Regions from separate parts of the Homo sapiens genome. Here region 2 is linked to region 1. Evidence: fine-mapped expression QTL. Tissue or cell type: blood mononuclear cells. Region 1 holds a variant in brackets; the other region holds the start of a gene. All regions are shown on one strand. Distances are from middle to middle.

Region 1 (10,626 bases):
TCATATTGATGTGGTAGTTAGATTTGATTCTATCACCTTCCTATTTGTTTTCTATTTGTCCCGTCTGTTCTTTGTTCCAAATTTAATTTTTTTCTGTGTTCTTTTGGATCAATTAAATACATTTATGATTCTATTTCATGTCTTTTGTTGTCTAATAAGCTATAAGTCTTTGTTTTTTGCTTTAGTGGTTGCCTTATATAGTATACATTGTTATACTATATAGTATATATTGTTACTATATTTATACATATAGGGTTTATAGTATACATTGTTAACTTATCAGAGTCCACTTTCAAGGGGTATATCACTTCATGTGTAGTATAAAAAAACCTTACAATATTATACTTTTATCTCTCTCCTTTTAGCCTTTATGCTATTAGTTAATGCGTTCCACTTTTATATATGTTGTAAATCTTAAGGAGCCAATTATATTTTAAAAATATTTAAATAATAGAAAATACATATATTTATCCATATAATTACCATTTATTTATTTACAACTGGAGAATTTTCCTTTTGCTTGATGCATTTCTGTAACATTTCTTTTTTTTTTTTTTTTTTTTTTTTTTTTGAGATGGAGTCTCGCTCTGTTGCCCAGGCTGGAGTGTAGTGGCGTGATCTTGGCTCACTGCAACCTCCACCTCCTGGGTTCGAGCGATTATTTTGCCTCAGCCTCCCAAGTAGCTGGGACTACAGGCACATGCCACCACACCCAGCTAATTTTTGTATTTTTAGTAGAGATGGGGTTTCACCTTATTGGCCAGGTTGGTCTTGAACTCCTGACCTCGTGATCCGCCTGCCTCGGCCTCCCAAAGTGCTGGGATTACAGGCATGAGCCACCGTGCCCGGCTTCTGTAACATTTCTTATAGTGTGGCTCACTGTAGCTTCAACCTCCTGAACTAAAGCAATTCTCCTTCCTCAGTCTCCAAATAGCTGTGACTACAGGCATGTGCTACCACACCTGGCTAATTATTTTATGCTTTTGTAGAGATGGGGGTCTCGATGCTACTCATTTTTGTATGGTGATTTTGTATCCTGCAACTTTCCTGAATTTGTTCATCAGTTCTAATAGTTTTTTGGTGGAGTCTTTAGGTTTTTCCAAATATAAGCTCAGATCATCTGCAAAAAAGTATAATTTGATTTCTTCCTTTCCACTTTGGATGCCCTTTTTCCTTTCTCTCTCTCTCTCTTTCGTTTTTTTCTTTGAGACGAAGTCTCGCTCTGTCACCCAGGCTGGAGTGCAGTGGCTCGATCTTGGCTCACTACAACCTCTGCCTCCTGGATTCAAGCGATTATCTCCTGCCTCAGCCTCCGGAGTAGCTGGGATTATAGGCGCACGCCACCACACCCAGCTAATTTTTTTTGCATTTTTTGTAGAGACGGGGTTTCACCATGTTGGCTAGGCTGGTCTTGAACTGACCTCAGTTGATCCGCCCACCTTGGCCTCCCAAAGTGTTGGGATTACACTTGTGAGTCATCCTGCCCCGCCATATTTCTTTCTCTTGTCTGATTATTCTAGCTAGGACTTCCAGTGCTATGTTGAGTAACAGTGGTGAAAGTGGGCATCCTTGTCTTGTTCCAGGTCTTAGAGGAAAGGCTTTCAGTTTTTCCCCATTCAGAATGACACTAGCTGTGGGTCTATCATATACGGTTTCATTGTGTTGAGATATGTTCCTTCTACACTCAGTTTTTTGAGGATTGTTATCATGAAGGGATGTTGAGCTTTATCAATTCCTGCCATTTGGTTGTTTGTTTTCTGATTGTTTTGTGGTCTTCTCTTCCTCCTTTCCTTTTTTCTGTCTTCCTTTTAGTGAGGGTGGTTTTCTCAGGTGGTATGTTTTAATTTCTTGCTTTTTTATTTTTTGTGTATCTGTTGTATGTTTTTTGGTTTGAGGTTACCATGAACCTTGCAAATATCTTATAACCCATTATTTTAAACTCATGACAAAGTAACACTGATGGTATAAACATACAAACAAACAAACAAACAAGCAAAGAGAAAACTAATAAAAACTCTTACACTTTAACCTCATCCCCCATTTTTTAACTTTTTGTTGTTCCTATTTCTATCTTATTGTACTATGTCTTGAAATGCTGTCGTAGTTATCATTTTCAACTGGCACATCTTTTAGTGTTTTTTTGTTTTTTTTTTTTATTTTTGAGATGGAGTTTCCCTCTTGTTGCCCAGGCTGGAGTGCAATGGCACGATCTCGGCTCACGAAAAACTCTGCCTCCTGGGTTCAAGCGATTCTCCTGCCTCAGCCTCCCGAGTAGCTGGGATTACAGGCATGTGCCACTATGCCTGGCTAATTTTGTATTTTCAGTAGAGATAGGGTTTCTCCATATTGGTCAGGCTGGTCTTGAACTCCCGACCTCAGGTGATCTGCCTGCCTTGGCCTCCCAAAGTGCTGGGATTACAGGCGTGAGCCACTGTGCCCAGCCTCCTTCAGGACTTTAAATATGTCATGCCATTATCTCCTGGCTTGTAAGGTTTCCACTGAGAAGTCTGCTGCCAGATGTATTAGAGCTCCATAGTGTTATTTGTTTCTTTTCTCTTGCTGATTTTAAGGTCTTTTCTTTATCCTTGTCCCTTGGGGTTTTATTATTATTTTTGAGACAGGATCTTGCTCTGTTGCCTGGGCTGGAGTGCAGTGGTGCAATCATGGCTCACTACAGCCTTGGCTTCCTGAGCTCAAGTGATCCTCCCATCTCAGCCTCTCAAGTAGCTGGGACTACAGGCGCATGACCCCACATCTGGCTAAATTTTGTGGGTTTTTTTTTGGGTAGAAAGAAATGGGATTTTGCCATGTTGCCCAGGCTGGTCTCAAACTCCTGGGGTCACGTGATTTACCCACCTCAGCCTCCCAGAAAGCTAGGATTACAGGCATGAGCTGACACGCCTGGCCAGGAGTTTGATTATTAAATATCCTAAGGTAGTCTTATTTTGGTTAAATCTGCTTGGTGTTCTGTAACCTTGTACTTGAATATTGAAATCTTTCTCTATGTTTGGGACGTTCTCTGTTATTAGCCCTTAACAGAAAACTTTTTTCCCTATCTCTCTTTCTGTCTCCTTTTTAAGGCCAATAACTTTTAGATTTGCCCTTTGAGGCTATTTTCTGGATTCTGTAGGCATTCTTCTTTCTTTTTTGTTCTTTTTTCTTTCTTTCTTTCTTTCTTTTTTTTTTGTGAGACGGAGTCTTATTCTGTCACCCAGGCTGGAGTGCAATGGCGCGATCTCAGCTCACTGCAACCTCTGCCTCCTGGGCTCAAGTGATGCTCCTGCCTCAGCCCCCTGAGTAGCTGAGATTACAGGCCTGGCTAATTTTTATATATTTAGTAGAGGTGGGGTTTCACCATCTTGGCCAGGCTGGTCTCAAACTCCTGACCTTGTGATCCGCCCACCTCGGCCTCCCAAAGTGCTGGGATTACAGGCGTGAGCCACCACGCCTGGCGTCTTTTTTCTTTTGTCTCCTCTGACTATGTGTTTTCAAATAGCCTGTTTTCAAGCTCACTAATTATTTCCTCTGCTTGATCAATTCTGCTATTAAATGACTCTGATGCATTCTTCAGTCTGTCAATTGCATTTTTCAGCTCCAGAATTTCTGCTTTATTCTTTTTTCATTATTGCAATGTCTTTGTTAAATTTATCTGATAGGATTCTGAATTCCTTCTTTATGTTATCTTGAGTATCTGTGAGTTTCCGTGAGTTTCCTCAAGACAGCTATTTTGAATTCTCTGTATGAGAGGTCACATATCTCTGTCTTTCCAGGATTGATACCTGGTGTCTTATGTAGTTCATTTGGTAAGGTCATGTTTTCCTGGGTGGTCATAATGCTTGCCTGGGCATTGATGAGTTAGGTATTTACTGCAATCTTTGCATCCTGGGCTTGTTTGTACCCAACCTTCTTGGGAAGCCTTTCCAGGCATTCAAAGGGACTTGGGTGTTGTGATCTATGTTTTTTGTCATCAAAGCCATATTTGCATTGGGGGGACTCCAAGCCCAATAACACTGTGGCTCTTGTAGACTCATAGAGGTACCACCTTTGTGGTCTTGGATAAGATCCAAAAGATTCCTTTGGATTACCAGGGAAACATTCTTGTTCTCTTCCTTTACTTTCTCCCAAACACACAGTTTCTCTCTCTGTTCTGAGCCACCTAGAGCTAGGGGAGAGGTGACACAAACACCCCGGTGGCCACCACCAGTGGGACTGCACCAGGTCAAACCTGAAGCCAGCTCAGTACTGAGTCGTGCCCAAGGCCCATGGTAACCACTGCCTGGCTACCACTAATGTCCACTCAAGGCCCTAGAGCTCTACAATGAGCAGGTGGCAATGCCAGCCTGGCTTGTGTCCTTCCCTTCAGAGCAGCAAGTTTCCCCAGTCTTGAGCAGGCCTAGAGATGCCATCCAGGAGCCAGGGCCTGGGCACGGAAACCTTGTGAATCTACCTGGTACTCTATTTTATGGTGGCTGAGCTGGCACCCAAGCCACAAGACAAAGTCATTCTCACTCTTCCTTCCCCTTTCCATAAGCAAAGGAGTCTCTCTCCATGGCCAAAACTGACCCAGGTCCTTGGCAAATATTGCCTGGCTACCATTGCTATTCACTCAGGGCCCAAGGGCTCCTTATTCAGCTTGTTGTGAATGCTGTCAGGCCTGCAACTCACTCTTCAGGCTAGTGGGCTTTCCTCTGGCCCAGGGAAGGTCCAGAAATGTTGTCTAAGAGCCAAGGCCTGGAATCAGGGACCCCAAGAGCCTATTTGGTGCTCTACCCCCGTGTGGTGAAGTGGAACATAAACTGCAAGACAAAGTCCCCTTTACTCTTTCCTCTCCTTTCCTCAAGCAGAGGGGGTCTTTCCCTGTGGCCACCACAGCAGGGAATATGCTGGGTCACACCTAAAGCCAGCATGTTTCAGTGTCTTACCCAAGGCCCATGGTGTACTACCTGGGTGCCACTGTTTGTTATTCAGGGCCCGGGGGCTCTTTAGTCAGCAGATGTTGAATTATACCAGGACTAGAGCCTTCCCTTCAAGGCAGCAGGTTCTCTTATGGCCCAAAGTGTGTCTAGAAATGTCATTTGGGGCCAGGCACAGTGGCTCA[C/T]GCCTGTAATCCCAGCACTTTAGGAGGCCGAGGTGGGCGGATCACTTGAGGCCAGGAGTTTGAGACCAGCCTGGCCAACATGGTGAAACCCCGTCTCTACTAAAAATACAAAAATTAGCCAGGCGTGATGGCACGTGACTGTAATCCCAGCTACTTGGGAGGCTGAGGCAGGGAGAATTGCTTGAACCTGGGAGGCGGAGTTTGCAGTGAGCCGAGATCGCACCACTGCACTCCAGCCTGGGTGACAGAATGAGACTCCTTCTAAAAAAAGTGTGAAAAATGTCATCTGGGAGCTAGGGCCTGGAATGGGGACTTCAGGACTCTGCCTGGTGCCATATCCTACTGTGGCTGAGCTGGCTTCCAAGTTGCAAGACAAAGTCCTCTTTACTCTCCCCGCTCCTCTCCTCAAGTAGAGGAAAGGAATCTCTTTCAGTGGTTTGAGCTGCACTGCTTGGGGTTGGGAGAGGGGTGGCTCAAGCACTCCCTTGGCCACCCCAGCTGATGTTTCACTGGGTTGTGTGTCCAAATCCACTGGCTCCAAGCCCAGCACAGCAACAGGACTTGCCCAGGAACGGCAGTCCTTGTAGCCCAGACTGACTTTCAAGTTTATTTAGGACTGCAGAGCACTTTAGCCCACGGTGGTGAGGCTTGCCAAAACTCAGGTTCTGACTGCTGGGATGGACAGTTTGCCTCTGGCTAGGGCTGGTCCAAGTGCTCCCCTTATGGGTGCCGGCTTAGTTCTCTCCGGTTTTTGCTTTCTGTTGTGACAGGGAAGCACCGAGTTCCAGCGCAAAGTCTCACGATTGCTGTGCTCTCCTGCCCCCAAGTGCACAGATTCTCTCTCTCTGCCACACACCTACTACCAGGGGATGGGGGCGGGGTGGTGTAGGTGATTCAAAGCTGTCTTCCCTACCCACTTTAGTGCCTCTTTCAGTGATAGGAAGTTAAAACCAGGTACTGTGATTGCTCACCTGATTTTTGGTTCTTATGAAGGTGCTTTATTGTGTGGATAGGTGTTCAATTCAGCATTCCTGTGAAGAGGATGATCAGGAGGCTTTTATTCAGCCATCTTGCTCCCTAGGTTGACAGTTTTTAAAATTCATTCTTTTAAAAATGTTGCACCATTGGGTCATTTTTATATCTTCTATGTCTCTTGTTGAACTCTTATGAACTTGTGGAACATAGCTTTAATAACTCTTAATGTCCTTATCTGCTAATTAATTTATGCATCAAATCTGGGTTGGTTTTCCTTGATTGACTGTTGTCTTCATATTTTCCTGCCTTGTTGCATGATTAGTAAGCTTTTTTTTCCCCCCCAAGATGGAGTCTTGCCCTATCGCCCAGGCTGGAGTGCAGTGGTGCGATCTCAGCTCACTGCAACCTCCGCCTCCCGGGCTGAAGCAATTCTCTTGCCTCAGCCTCCCGAGTAGCTGGGATTACAGGTGCCCGTCACCACACTCAGCTAATTTTTGTATTTTTAGTAGAGACGGGGTTTTACTATGTTGGCTAAGCTAGTCTTGAACTCCTGACCTCATGATCCACCTGCCTTGGCCTCCCAAAGTGCTGGGATTACAGGCGTGAGCCACCATGCCCGGCCTGACTAGTAAGTTTTTTGTTTGTTTGTTTGTTTTTAGAGACAGGGTCAGCTCTGTCACTCAGGCTGGAGTGCAGTGATGCCATCATAGCTCATTGCCTCCTTGAACTACTGAGTTCCAGCAATCCTCCCAAATAGCCTCTAGAATACCTAGTGAGAGGTGACAGCGTGCTGGCAGTCCTCACAGCCCTCGCTCGCTCGCTCTTGGCGCCTCCTCTGCCTGGGCTCCCACTTTGGCAGCACTTGAGGAGCCCTTCAGCCCACCGCTGCACTGTGGGAGCCCCTTTCTGGGCTGGCCAAGGCCAGAGCCGGCTCGCTCAGCTTGCGGGGAGGTGTGGAGGGAGAGGCGTGAGCGGGAACCGGGGCTGCGCGTGGCGCTTGCGGGCCAGCTGGAGTTCTGGGTGGGCGTGGGCTTGGCGGGCCCCGCACTCGGAGCAGCCGGCTGGCCCTGCCGGCCCCGGGCAATGAGGGGCTTAGCACCCGGGCTAGTGGCTGTGGAGGGTGTACTGGGTCCCCCAGCAGTGCCAGCCAACCAGTGCTGCGCTCGATTTTTCGCCGGGCCTTAGCTGCCTTCCCGCAGGGCAGGGCTCGGGACCTGCAGCCCACCATACCTCAGCCTCCCACCCCCTCCATGGGCTCCTGTGAGGCCAGAACCTCCCCGATGAGCACCGCCCCCTGCTCCATGGCGCCCAGTCCCATCGACCACACAAGGGCTGAGGAGTGCGGGCGCACGGCGCGGGACTGGCAGGCAGCTCCACCTGCAGCCCAGGTGCGGGATCCACTGGGTGAAGCCAGCTGGGCTCCTGAGTCTGGTGGGGACGTGGAGAACCTTTATATCTAGCTCAGGGATTGTAAATACACCAATCGGCACTCTGTATCTAGCTCAAGGTTTGTAAATACACCATCAGCACCCTAGCTGTGTCTAGCTCAGGGTTTGTGAAAGCACCAATCGACACTCTGTATCTAGCTACTCTGGTGGGGCCTTGGAGAACCTTTATGTCTAGCCCAGGGATTGTAAATACAGCAATCGACACTCTGTATCTAGCTACTCTGGTGGGGCCTTGGAGAACCTTTATGCCTAGCTCAGGGTTTGTGAAAGCACCAATCGACACTCTGTATCTAGCTACTCTGGTGGGGCCTTGGAGAACCTTTATGTCTAGCCCAGGAATTGTAAATACAGCAATCGACACTCTGTATCTAGCTACTCTGGTGGGGCCTTGGAGAACCTTTATGTCTAGCCCAGGGATTGTAAATACAGCAATCGACACTCTGTATCTAGCTACTCTGGTGGGGCCTTGGAGAACCTTTATGTCTAGCCCAGGGATTGTAAATACAGCAATCGACACTCTGTATCTAGCTACTCTGGTGGGGCCTTGGAGAACCTTTATGTCTAGCCCGGGGATTGTAAATACAGCAATCGATACTCTGTATCTAGCTACTCTGGTGGGGCCTTGGAGAACCTTTATGTCTAGCTCGGGGTTTGTGAATGCACCAATTGACACTCTGTATCTAGCTACTCTGGTGGGGCCTTGGAGAAACTTTATGTCTAGCCCAGGGATTGTAAATACAGCAATCGACACTCTGTATCTAGCTACTCTGGTGGGGCCTTGGAGAACCTTTATGTCTAGCCCGGGGATTGTAAATACAGCAATCGACACTCTGTATCTAGCTACTCTGGTGGGACCTTGGAGAACCTTTATGTCTAGCCCGGGGATTGTAAATACAGCAATCGACACTCTGTATCTAGCTACTCTGGTGGGGCCTTGGAGAACCTTTGTGTCCACACTCTGTATCTAGCTAATCTGGTGGGGACGTGGAGAACCTTTGTGTCTAGCTCAGGGATTGTAAACGCACCAGTCAGCGCCCTGTCAAAACAGACCACTCGGCTCTACCAATCAGCAGGATGTGGGTGGGGCCAGATAAGAGAATAAAAGTAGGCTGCCCGAGCCAGCAGTGGCAACCTGCTCGGGTCCCCTTCTACACTGTGGAAGCTTGGATCTTTCGCTCTTTGCAATAAATCTTGCTACTGCTCACTCTTTGGGTCCACACTGCTTTTATGAGCTGTAACACTCACCACGAGGGTCTGCAGCTTCACTCCTGAAGCCAGCGAGACCACAAGCCCACCGGGAGGAATGAACAACTCCAGAAGCACCGCCTTAAGAGCTGTAACACTCACCACGAAGGTCTGCAGCTTCACTCCTGAGCCAGCGAGACCACGAACCCACCAGAAGGAAGAAACTCCGAACACATCCGAACATCAGAAGGAACAAACTCCAGACGCGCCACCTTAAGAGCTGTAACACTCACCGCGAGGGTCTGCGGCTTCATTCTTGAAGTCAGTGAGACCAAGAAACCACCAATTCCGGACACACTAGGACTACAGGCATGCGCCACCACACCTAGCTAATTTTTGAATTTTTTGTAGAGACAGGGTCTTGCTATGTTGCCCAGGCTGCTCTGGAACTCCTGGCCTCAAATAATCCACCTTCCTCAGCCTTCTAAAGTACTGGGTTAGAGGCATGAGCCATTGTGCCTGGCCCCATTAAGTTTTTCTTTTCTTTTTTTTTTTTTGAGACGGAGTCTCACTCTGTCGCCCAGGTTGGAGTGCAGTGGCGCCATCTCGGCTCACTGATGTGGCCGCCTCCCATGTTCAAGCGATTCTCCTCAGCCTCCCGAGTAGCTGGGATTACAGGAATGCGCCACCACACCTGGCTAATTTTTTTGTATTTTTAGTAGAGACAGGGTTTCACCATTTTGGACAGTCTGGTCTTGAACTTCTGACCTCAGGTGATCCACCCACCTCGGCCTTCCAAAGTGCTGAGATTACAGGCGTGAGCCACTGCACCCGGCCCTATTAAGTTTTGATTGGATGTCAAACATTGTGATTTTTTTTTTCTTTTTGGGTGCTGGATATTTTTGTATTCAATATAAATCTTCTTGAACTTTGTTGAGTTGCAGTTAAGTTTCCTTGGAAATATTTTTATCCTTTAAGGTCTAGCTTTTATGATCTGTTTGATGGAGTCGAGCAGTGCTTTGTGTAGGGCTAATTATTCTCCACAACTGAGAAAAGAACTTCCTGAGGACTCTACCCAATACCTCATAAATTATGCGTTTTTTCCAATCTGACTGGTGGGAGCAGGCACTATTACTGGCTCTGTGTGAGCATGAGGCACTATTCCCTCTAATCCTTTCAGGTGTTCTCTCCCTGGCCCCAGGCAGTTTCCTCACACGCATATACTGATCAGTAAGTACTCTTTTGAATACTGAAGGGTATGCTCTTCAGATCTCCAGGGTTCTCTGTCTATTAGGGTTCTCCAGAGAAACAGCACCAATGGGATATATTAGGATATATGTATCTATATCTACCTATCTACCTACCTATCTATCTATCTATCCATCCCCAAAGATTTTAAGGAATTGGCTCACATGATTGTGGAGGCTGGCAAAGTTCAAAATCTTCAAGGTAGACCAGCAAGCTGGAGACCCAGGGAAGCATTGATGCTTTAGTGTGAGTCTGAAGGCAGTCTCCTGGCAGAATTCCCTCTTCTGGGGAGATCAGTCTTTTTCTATTAAGGTCTTCAGCTGATAGGATGAGGCCCGTGTGCATTATGGAGGGTAATCTGCTTTACTCAAAGTCTACTGATTCAATGTGAATCTCATTTAAAAACTACCTTCATAGAAACATCTAGAATAATGTTTCACCAAATATCTGGGTTCCAAGGCCTAGCCAGGTTGACATATAAAATTAACCATCACACTCTTTGTGTAGCTTTTTGCTTTCTGGTACGCTGTTCTATCAACTCTAGCTATTTTGATCTCCCAGAAGTCTTAGCTCCAAATCCTCAACTCAGGGAGTCAGGTGGGCTCTACCTCAGTTCTCCCATCTTGTGCCATAGCCTGAACACTTTCTCAAGGGGGCAAACTGGTCTTCCGG
Region 2 (5,097 bases), 32 kb before region 1:
GCCCCTTAGCCCAGGGACATTGTCTTCCAGCTCCCAGCACTCCTGTGCATCACAGTATGAAGGTAGCCCCTACTTGGCCTGCTCCTCCCTTTCCCCGCAAACATAAGGCTAGAGCCCACTGCCCTAGAAAACAGCAAGGACTTCAGCAGACAGGGGGCATCTTGCAGAGAGACCTGGCGGGGCCACCCACAGTGTGATCAGGGCTTTGCCACCTAAGACAGGTAGACAAATTCAAGCCTGGGGCTGCATCCCAGGGTGGGGGTAGGGGACTCTCAGGGCTGAAAGTCTTGCCTGAGATTCAGCACATCAGACAAGACTTCACAACAATGGGGGCCCCAGGCTCCTTCCACAGGCCCCAAGGGACCATCTCATCCTCCCAACAAGCTGCTGGCTGTCCCCTATAAGGCAGCAAAAGACCATGAAAGGCTCTTGGGGGGGTGTGTGAAGGGGCGAACTTGGCGACGAGACAGCTGCCACCTCCCTGGGCTCCTGGCCAACACAGCCTTGGCCCTCACACAGCAACTGGCTCAGCCCTGAGCCCTGTCTCTTATGTGCAGCCCGGTCCTAAGGTGGTTCCCTCCCCAGGGCTCAAGCCCGGTTTCCAGAGGCAAAAGGGGCCCTTTTGGAGGCTGTTCTGAACCACTGTGCTCTTCTATTGGGATGGAGCAGCAGCCACTTCATCCAACCCTCAGGGCTGTGGTGAGAACTCAGGGAGTCCTGAGAACCCTGTGACCCAGCCAGAGGTCAGGATGAATCCCAGATCTTCAGGCCCCACCCTCTGAATAAGAAGCAGGTAAAGCCAGGCAATAATAGCACCTGCTCAACACTAGGTTGCTGCCACACCTTTGCTCTATGCTCGTGCACACACATACACAGACAAACACACTCCAATTTTCTCTTCCTCCTCAAGCCACAGGGAACCCGAGTTACCTGCTCCCAGGTGGGCAAGAGTTAGAATCACACAGAGGCACTGGCGTCTGAGAGCACAAAAACCTTCAAGAGACTCTGGCAAAGGGGCCAGAGTCACACAGTAACATCCACCACAGCCAAGGGCCAGTCACAGACACGAGCCCCAAATAACTACGGGCCCACATCACAGAAGGAACACACAGTAAGGACCACAATTACACAGTGGGTCCCCTTTCCATGGATGAGCGTCAGTGTCACAGATACAAACTCCCCAAAAGAAGGGGCAATGAGTCACACACACATTCCCTGCATGCCCCTTCCCACCCAATAAGTGGGTTAGGGTCAATCAAAAGACAGTCGTCCCCCAAGCCCCGCCCCATGGATAAGGATCAGAGTCACAGACCGCCCCCCCTCAAAGGGTAAAGACCAGAGTCACATCCCCCCTCCGATCCCCCAGGAATAGAGACCAGAACCACAGAATATTTCCCCATGGACCGATAAACACCAGAGTAACACAGAGCAGCATCCCCTCTCCTATGCACAAACTCAAAGTCGCAGACAACCGCTTCCCCACTGATAAACTTCGATGTAGCCGACACAGTGATCCACAGTAGCCCACTCCCATCCGTCCCTCCCTTCCCCCAACCCGCATGCACCCATCCCATGTCCCAGTCGCGCACGCGCCTTTGCTCACACCAAAAAAAAAAAAAAAAAAAAAAAAAACCAAAAAAAAAAAAACCCTCCCGGGTTGAGACATTGCACCAACCCCTCCGTTCCGCGCATCTCCCCCGACCCGAAGTCCGCCCTCGCGCCTCCTCTACGTCCCCGCCCCGGGCCCCTTACCTCCGCCCCCACGACCAGCGTCGACGCTCACCTTCTCGGCCCGGGCTGTCAAGGAAGGGCTCCCAGACATCACCTCTGCCCGCCGCCACCTCCTCCAACTCTCCCAGCTCAGCCGGAGCCGGAGCGCGCAACAACCAAGTCCGAGACTGGAGGCAGATCGGGGGGAGGGGAGAAGCGCCAAGCGCGCTGCCCTCCCAGGGAAACTCACTGCCGCCTACTCCCAGCCGGCCACAGTCACCAGCTCAAAATGGCGACGACGAGAAGGGAGTCGGCGCTCCGACCACCATCCACCTACTAAGGAAGCGCGCTCTGGCCGGCCCCGGCGATTGGTCACCGCCCGCTAGGGGACAGCCCTGGCCTCCTCTGATTGGCAAGCGCTGGCCACCTCCCCACACCCCTTGCGAACGCTCCCCTAGTGGAGAAAAGGAGTAGCTATTAGCCAATTCGGCAGGGCCCGCTTTTTAGAAGCTTGATTTCCTTTGAAGATGAAAGACTAGCGGAAGCTCTGCCTCTTTCCCCAGTGGGCGAGGGAACTCGGGGCGATTGGCTGGGAACTGTATCCACCCAAATGTCACCGATTTCTTCCTATGCAGGAAATGAGCAGACCCATCAATAAGAAATTTCTCAGCCTGGCCGAAAATGGTTGGCCCCACGAAGCCACGACAACTGGAGGCAAAGAGGGTTGCTCAACGCCCCGCCTCATTGGAAAACCAAATCAGATCTGGGACCTATATAGCGTGGCGGAGGCGGGGCGATGATTGTCGCGCTCGCACCCACTGCAGCTGCGCACAGTCGCATTTCTTTCCCCGCCCCTGAGACCCTGCAGCACCATCTGTCATGGCGGCTGGGCTGTTTGGTTTGAGCGCTCGCCGTCTTTTGGCGGCAGCGGCGACGCGAGGGCTCCCGGCCGCCCGCGTCCGCTGGGAATCTAGCTTCTCCAGGACTGTGGTCGCCCCGTCCGCTGTGGCGGGAAAGCGGCCCCCAGAACCGACCACACCGTGGCAAGAGGACCCAGAACCCGAGGACGAAAACTTGTATGAGAAGGTGAGAGGCGGGGGGGGGGGGGGGGGTAGTGGGGACGGAACCCCGAAGGGGTCAGTCCGGGATCGGCAGATGGGGCGCTGTAGAGGACGTTCTTAGGCAGTAGAGGACTGCGCGGCCGGCGAAAGCCTAGAAGACTTGGGAATTTTGCCTACCTTGTGTTCCTCCTTTGTCTCTCGGTATCTTCGTTCCAGGGCCAGAGGCAGGATTGGTTTTATTTTGCAGACAGAAATCACACCTCAAGTGGACAGCGCTCAAAACACGTTAGAAGCAGTATAGTACAACGATAATACTAAACACCGATATGGCACTTGCTCGTTGCCGTCTGCATTCTTTTTTTTTTTTTTATAGGGACGAGATCTCGCTATGTTGCCCAGGCTGGTCTCGAACTCCTGGCTCAAGCGATCCTCTCGCCTCGGCCTCCCAAGGTGCTGGGATTACAGGCATGAGCCACCGCTCCGGGCCCCGTCTGTGTTCTAAACACTTGACATGCATTAGCTCATCTTATACTCGAAACAAACCCCATTTCGAGGTGGGCTCTATTATTATACTCATCCTACAGATGAGGAAACTGAGGCACAGAGATGTTAAGTGGATTGCCCTAGCTCACATAACTGAATACATGGTGGAGGTGGAACTGGTATTTGAATTTAGGGCTACCAGGTCTGCTGTGCTGTATTAATAGCAGACGCTGTGAAATCAGGCAGCACTGACGGTTACCCACCCGTGTGATCTTGGTAGCATAAACCCTTGGTGCCTCAGTTTCTTTGTCTGTAAGATGGGAACAGTAATAGGACACCTTCTAAAAAATAGGACACCCCACCTGCCTCATGTAATTAAATGAGTAAAAATGGTCAGAACAGCAGCTGGCACTTCGTAAGTATGTACTCAGCACTAGAATGTGTTTATTATTGCCATGTTTCACCTCACTGAGATATTGTGAGGTGTTTCTATGTGAAAAGACTGGCACATAATAAGTACTTCATCAATACTAACCTCTGGTTAAGGGGCTTGGATATATAGGATGCTTGTTCATTCTGTAAATATGTATTGAGGGCCTGCTGTATGCCAGGCTCAGTTCAGGGCCCTGGGGATACAGCAGTGTGGAAATCAGACAAAGCCCATGCTCTCATAGAGCTTACATGATAGTGGGGAAGACAGAAAATAAACAGTAAAATATTAGAAAACAATAATACAAAGTAGTATAATAGATAATATAACATGAGAATGTATGATATACAGAGAATGGGGAAAGTATGCTACTTAGGTAAACATAGACTAGAAAGAGACAGAAGGAAGAGAGGATGTGAAGACAAAGTTAAGCAAGATAAGTGGATAGAGAATGACTTGGGTGTAGGGGGCTATTTCATTAGCTTGAGCTATAAGAAATTGCCAGTATTCAACCATTTGTGACCTATAAAAATAGCAGTTTCCTATGCTTCAACTTTGAAAGACAAGGTAACTAGGGAGTGCCTCCTGAAGGAAGTGGTGATGAATCTAAAACCTTGAATGAGGAGACAGATCCAGCCATGACTAGAGCTGGAAGAAAGGCTTTCCAGGCAGAGAGAGCAGCAAGTGCAGTGGCCCTGCAGTGGGAAGGAGCTTGACATATCCCAAGAATGGAAACAGAGGAATTTAGTGAGAGGGGCACATGGAGACCAAGTTATGCAGGGCCAGAATAAGGCTTTGTGGAGCAGCAGGAAGCCCTCATTGACCTCTATTTCTCCACAGAACCCAGACTCCCATGGTTATGACAAGGACCCCGTTTTGGACGTCTGGAACATGCGACTTGTCTTCTTCTTTGGCGTCTCCATCATCCTGGTCCTTGGCAGCACCTTTGTGGCCTATCTGCCTGACTACAGGTGCACAGGGTGTCCAAGAGCGTGGGATGGGTAAGAGGCAGAGGCAGGGATGGAGGTTGAAGGGGATTCTGCCAGGAGTTTTGTTCCTGCACCATTGGGAATGGGGAGCTGAGATGAGGGATTGGTATCAGTTGAGGCTCCCTCACGTCTACCCCTGCTATTTGCACTACCAGGATGAAAGAGTGGTCCCGCCGCGAAGCTGAGAGGCTTGTGAAATACCGAGAGGCCAATGGCCTTCCCATCATGGAATCCAACTGCTTCGACCCCAGCAAGATCCAGCTGCCAGAGGATGAGTGACCAGTTGCTAAGTGGGGCTCAAGAAGCACCGCCTTCCCCACCCCCTGCCTGCCATTCTGACCTCTTCTCAGAGCACCTAATTAAAGGGGCTGAAAGTCTGACTCGCTAGTGTTGATTGTGTTGTGAAGGGGATATGGGATGGGGG

What was found. PIP is the estimated chance that this variant, and not a neighbour inherited with it, causes the effect.
Region 2: NDUFB11 starts here. The variant in region 1 is fine-mapped to the expression of NDUFB11 in blood mononuclear cells (TOPMed, PIP above 0.99). The same link has a PIP of 0.9 or more in fibroblasts, gastroesophageal junction, lung, stomach, subcutaneous fat and unexposed skin.

Annotation. Positions count from the first base shown.
Region 1 is chrX:47,107,793-47,118,418 of GRCh38, reverse strand. No RefSeq gene overlaps it. Among named protein-coding and RNA genes, the nearest start is that of NDUFB11, 32 kb to the left of the region's middle. The variant C/T (reference allele first, on the strand shown) is at 5,099.
Region 2 is chrX:47,142,172-47,147,268 of GRCh38, reverse strand. It overlaps NDUFB11 (NADH:ubiquinone oxidoreductase subunit B11), which reads left to right and starts at 2,567. Exons shown (of 3, transcript NM_001135998.3): 1 at 2,567-2,796; 2 at 4,525-4,655; 3 at 4,829-5,053. The coding sequence starts at 2,590. The coding sequence ends at 4,952. RBM10 (RNA binding motif protein 10) reads right to left here and starts at 2,048. Exons shown (of 24, transcript NM_005676.5): 1 at 1,784-2,048. RefSeq lists an enhancer at 1,755-2,024.